2 separate regions of the Homo sapiens genome follow, and region 1 is linked to region 2. The links come from fine-mapping of genetic effects on gene expression. A gene starts in region 2. The other region holds a variant in brackets. All regions are shown on one strand. Distances are from middle to middle.

Region 1 (2,908 bases), 36 kb after region 2:
TTCCGAGAAACCTGGGCTGGGCTGCCCAGGGCCGTGGGAATAGCCTCTATGGGTCCCTGGTTCTCCTTGGGCAGACTTTTGAGTCAGAGGAAAGCCAGCTTGGGGAGGAAAGCAATTTCCTCATCTCAGGCCCCCCAAGTCTGGGCAGGAGGGGTGGAGAAGGCAGAGAGCTGGACCTAGAGAAGTAGTCTCCAACTCCCTGCTTGCACACCCCCTGTGACGGGCAGCTCATTACCTATCAAGGCAACCTTGCTTGGTTAGTGAGCTGGAATTCTTACAAAATCCTTTCAGATGCTGGTTCAAAACTGCACCTTCATCCCTCTCTCTGTGGTCCTTACCTAGCTTTCTGGACCACACGGAGCACACCCCCTTCTCCAAATATCTCACACTCTTATATTTATTCGACTGTCTATTCAGGAGATGTGTGGACACAGGGGCAGACCCAGAGAGATTGCTGCAGCAATGGTGGAATCCCACTGGGTCCTGGGAACCTAGAAGGCGCTTCTGGCCTATCTGAGAGGAATCAATTTGGTGGGCTTCCTGTAGGAGGTAGCATCTAAGCTGTGTCTTAAAGGACAAATATGATTTGGCTTAGGGAAGAGGTGAGGGAAGAATGCTTCAGGCAGAAGAAACATTATGTGGAGGTGAGGGACCATTCTTTCATGAAGTAAAAAATGGTCTACGTGGCTGGAGTGGTGTGTTTGAGGAGGGCTAAGGGGGTACTAAGGCCAGAAAAGGGATAGAGAAAAGCCTGGAGCAGTGACCCAGGTAGCAGAAAAACAATACCCTCATTCTTCAAACAGGGTATGAGTCCAAATTTGTTTTGTATTTCTTAAACATTTTTTTAAGAGAGATGGGGTCTTGCTATGTTGCCCAGGCTGGTCTCCAGCTCCTGGCTTCAAGTGATCCTCTCACCTCAGCCTCCCAAAGTGCTGGAATTACAGGCATGAGCCTTCATGCCTGACTCATTTCACATTTCTCAATTGCTTTGCCAGGAAGCAAGGTATACCTTCTAGGTACACAAGTGCCCATCTTACTGCATCCTTGCTAGCATTAGGTTTTATTGTTTTTAAGAAATCTTTGCCAATTTCGGCAGGAAAAATTGGTATCTCATGTAAATGAAAACAAATGAGTATTTCCCTTGTAAGCGACATGCCTAAACAATTTCTCCAGACATGCATTGGCCTGGCAAATGCTACCTTTTGCCTGAGTGTTAAGAAATCTTACACTCGCTGGAGAGTTTGCAGTCATTTTTAGCTCCTCTCTTAGAGCAAAAGAAAAGCTTGTGGGCTACCCTCTGGCCACATGGGTGGAGGAATTTGTGAGGCAGCCTCCTCCCTTCTCCTTTGATTCATCTTTCTTTTTCTCACCTTTT[T/G]TTTTTTGTCCTTTTAAACTTCTCTGTACTCTGTTGGCCTCTGAGTCTTCTGGTAACTGTAGCTTCATCTTCATCTGGGGTGTCTTTGGGCTCAAAAAAGAGGGTTGGCAAACCACAGGAAGACTCCCCAAGTCTTCATAGGAGACTATGCTGATATGCTGAGTATCTTCTTCTTCTTCTTATTTTTGAGACAGGGTGTCACTCCTATCATCCAGGTGGGAGTGCAGTGGTGCCATCACAGCTCATTGCAACCTTGACCTCCTGGGCTCAAGCAACCTCCTGCTTCATTTTTTTTTTTGATTTTTTTGTAGAGACAAGGTCTCACTATGTTGCCCAGGCTGGTCTTGAACTCCTAGGCTCAAGCGATCCACCTGTCTCAGCCTCCCAAAGTGTGAGATGACAGGTGTGCGCCACCGTGCCCAGCCTATGCCAGGTATCTTATATCTTATAGACACATCTTACCATTTTAGTTCTCACAACATCTGCCTATGATGATAACCTTGAACCCCTTTTATAGATGAGGAGCTGAGGCTTAGAGAGGTTAAGTCACTCAGTCAGTATCCCATGGCCAATATTGGCTATTTCTCTTAGTTTCACTCAATAAATTACTCTTATGACATTAAGATTTTATTAAATTCTAATTTAGGAGCAGAGGGTTGGCCATTTATCTTTCTCTTTCTGTCAATCTCTCTCTCCTTTTTTGAGACAGAATCTCACTCTGTTGCCCAGGCTAGAGTGCAGTGGTGTGATCACAGCTCACTACAGCCTCGACCTCCCCAGGCTCAGGTGATCCTCCCACTTCAGCTTCCCAAGTAGCTGGGACCAGAGGTGCACACCACCATGCCCGGCTAATTTTTGAAAACTTTTTTTTTTTTTTTTTTGTAGAGACAGGGTTTTGCCACATTGCCCGGGTTGGTCTCGGACTCCTAAGTTCAACTGTTCCTCCTGCCTCGGCCTCCCAAAGTGTTGGCATTACAGGTGTGAGCCACCTCGCTCGGCTGTTGGCCATCTCTCTCTACCCACTGTCCCACCCTGCCCTGTCAGGGGATGGAAGCCCCATTCCTTATTAGGGAGGGACTGTGGAGTCCAGTTCAGCACCAGCCTTACAATGCAAGGAAAGAAAAGAAAACAGGAAAGAGGGAGGGGAAACCACAAACAACCCTTAGAGAGCCACAAGTGGCTCCAGGGCTCAGTTCCTGAGTTAGACCTCGGTTTTGGGCTGCTAAATTCTAAGCTCCAAGCTCTAGTTCCATCTCTGCCACTAAAACCCCATATGACCTTGATAAATTCTTTACCAGCTTTGGGTCTCAGTTTTTCCTTCTACGAGTCAACCCATCTCTTGGATTTTCTGGGAACTACAGTCATCCCTTGATATCTGGGGGGGATTGGTTCTGGGGTCTCCCTTGGATATTAAAATCCATGGATACTCAAGTTTCTAATCTAACATGGTGTAGTATTTGCATATAACCTATGCATATCCTCCCAAATATTTATTTATTTATATTTTTATTTTTTTGAGATGGAGTCTCGCTC
Region 2 (2,908 bases):
AAGTAGTTGGGATTACAGGCACCCGCCACCACGTCTGGCTAATTTTGTATTTTTAGTAGAGACGGGGTTTCTCCATGTTGGTCAGGCTGGTCTTGAACTCCTGACCTCAGGCGATCTGCCCACCTTGGCCTCCCAAAGTGCTGGAATTACAGGCGTGAGCCACTATGCCTGGCCATTTTCGTCTTCTTATAAGGACACGAGTCACATTGGATTAGGACCCACCATAACGCAGGAGGACCTCATCTTAAGTTGATTTCATCTGCAAAGACTGTATTTCCAAATAAAGTCTCATTCACAAGTTCCAGATGGGCATGAATTTAGGGGAGGGGACACTATTCAACCCAGTCCAGGGGGCTCTTTTAGAGAGGGAGTTCATGGAAGCATGGAAGGCTTCTTGGAGGAGGCAATATATGATCAGAGGCCTGATTGAAGTCAAGGGGATCTGGGGCAGGAGCATTCTAAGTGGAGGGAACAACGTGTGCAAAGGTCTTGGGGTTGGGCTGTGCCTGTTTTGTTATCTGTTCTGGCATCATAACAGGGTCTGTGTGTACAGCTGGAAGGAAGTGAGTTGATGTGGGAGAGGTGAGGACAGGGAGGTGACAGGGACAGGTCATGAAGGGCCTTGTGGGCTGCAGGAAGGACTTGGGCTTTTACCCTGAGGAGGTGGGAGCCATGGAGGACTGTGGACAGAGGAAGGATGTGAGACCCCAGAGAAGGACAAGACAGCACAAGGGCAGGCTAGGGTCCGGGTTTGGTATCTCACAGAAACCCCACAATCTCCTGGTGTTGGACACTTTATCTCACTCAGATAAAAATACATAAAATGAAAGGAAAGATAAAAATAAATAAAAAGAAAGAAAGGATAGGCCAGGCACGGTGGCTTACGCCTATAATCCCAGCACTTTGGGAGGCCGAGTCGGGTGGATCACCTGAGGTCAAGAGTTAGAGACCAGCCTGACCAACATGGTAAAACCCCGTCTCTACTAAAAATACAAAATTAGCCAAGTGTGGTGGCACATGCCTGTAATCCCAGCTACTTGGGAGGCTGAGACAGGAAAATTGCTTGAACCCAGGAGGCGGAGGTTGCAGTGAGCCGAGACTGTGCCATTGCACTCCAGCCTGGGCAACAAGAGTGAAACTCCATAAAAAAAAAACAAAGAAAGAAATGATAAAAATAAATTAAAGAAAAGAAAACAGGGAGAGAAAGGGAGAGAGTGTATGTTAGTTACCTAGGACTGCTATAACAAAATACTACAAACTTCCAGATGAGGTCTGGTGAGTTTAACTCCCCAGGATCACACAATTGCTCAGTGGTAGATGCACAGTTCAAATCCACACTGGTGTGTGGCATCAGGAATAACCTATGAGAGTGTTCATAGTGTCCATGAACATTGTATTCACTAGCTTCAAACTCCTGTCACTGATAGTTATTTATTTATTTTTGAGTTGGAGTCTCACACTGTCACCCGGGCTGGAGTGCAACAGCATGATCTCTGCTCACCGCAACCTCTGCCTCTTAGGTTCAAGTGATTCTCTTGCCTCAGCCTCCTGAGTAGCTGGGATTATAGGCACGTGCCACCGCGCCTGGCTAATTTTTTGTCTTTTTAGTACAGACGGGGTTTTACTACGTTGGCCAGGTTGGTCTTGAACTCCTGAGCTTGTGATTCACCTGCCCGGGCCTCCCAAAGATCTGGGATTACAGGCGTGAGCCACCGCACCCAGCCTATCACTGATATTTATGATGTCACCTCCATGGCACTTTGTTGGTTGACAATACCTGGGATATCTCCATTATAGCCCTGTTCGTGGGCACAGAGTTCTCTGCCATGGCTGGGGACTAGGAAGTGGGAAAGAGCTCTAGGGGAACCTGAGGGCTTGGGTGGAAGACTGGAGAGCCAGGAGGAGCAAGGAGCAGGAAGCAAGGTGGTAATGATGAGAGGCTGAGTCTTCCTTCCCATGCCTTGGGTGGGACATTTCTGGTCTCTGACACAGGAGGGCATGCAGACCTGGGTTAGGCTCCTCTCTCCCCCACACAGGTCCGGTTGGATCAGCTTATTCCCCCTGCAGCTTAACTACCTCCATCTCCCTTCTGGGATCTCATGATTGCCTTTAATTGGGGCCTTGGATGCCCGGGTCGTGTTGCATGGAACTGCGGCCAAGTGAGGGGATTAAGCAAAGCTGACTAGGATCGTTTCATGCAGATCTTTTCAGAGCCTTTAATAGACACCTGTGCTTTGCACAGCTTTCTCAAACTTACTTAACTCCTTTGATATTTTTTCCTCTGTAGCATTTTGGGGTACCAGGGGTTTCTGGAAGGGATACAGGAATCATTGCTTTAACTCAAAGAGGGTGCCTGAATGGTGGAATTTCAGGCAGGGACTTCTGGCTAAGCATCAAAGGTTTCCTCCTGCTCCTCCCTCTCTGCTTTCCCTTCCCAGGACCCGGGCACTGAGAACAAGGCTGGCACCCCACAGCTCTCTCAGGGGTGGCCCAGTGGGGTTGCAAATTCTAGGCAGGCCAAATTAGGAGCTCACAGGGAGGCTGGAGGGGGTCAGCCCAGGCAGGGCTGGGGGCTGGGCTTGGGATGAACAGGGGGACTGAACAGAGAGGCAGCATTCTGAACTGGAGTTCTGTGCCTGTCCCTTGATCTCTGGGGGGTCTGGAGGCAGGCGTGTCTTCTGGGAAGGCAGCGGAGTCCCCTGGGACAAAGCCCAGGGATTAGCTCAGTAGACAAACATCTGAGTCTTGGCCCCCTCTTCCCCCGAGTCCAGGGTCACAGTGGGAGGCCGCAGATTGGCCCTGTTCTTCTGAAAGTAAACAGGCAGTGCTGGCCTGGCTTCCCCTACATCCAGCCGCCAGGCCTTCGTGTCCAGCCCCTTTGTGCGGCGGCTCCAGCCTCTCAGCCTCC

Evidence for each region.
Region 1: its variant is fine-mapped to the expression of NFILZ in whole blood (INTERVAL, PIP above 0.99).

The regions. Positions count from the first base shown.
Region 1 is chr19:8,664,675-8,667,582 of GRCh38, forward strand. All of the region lies in intron 3 of NFILZ (NFIL3 like basic leucine zipper), which reads left to right. Among named protein-coding and RNA genes, the nearest start is that of ACTL9, 33 kb to the right of the region's middle. The variant T/G (reference allele first, on the strand shown) is at 1,376.
Region 2 is chr19:8,628,822-8,631,729 of GRCh38, forward strand. NFILZ (NFIL3 like basic leucine zipper) reads left to right here and starts at 1,812. Exons shown (of 6, transcript NM_001378600.1): 1 at 1,812-1,923. RefSeq lists an enhancer at 2,618-2,908.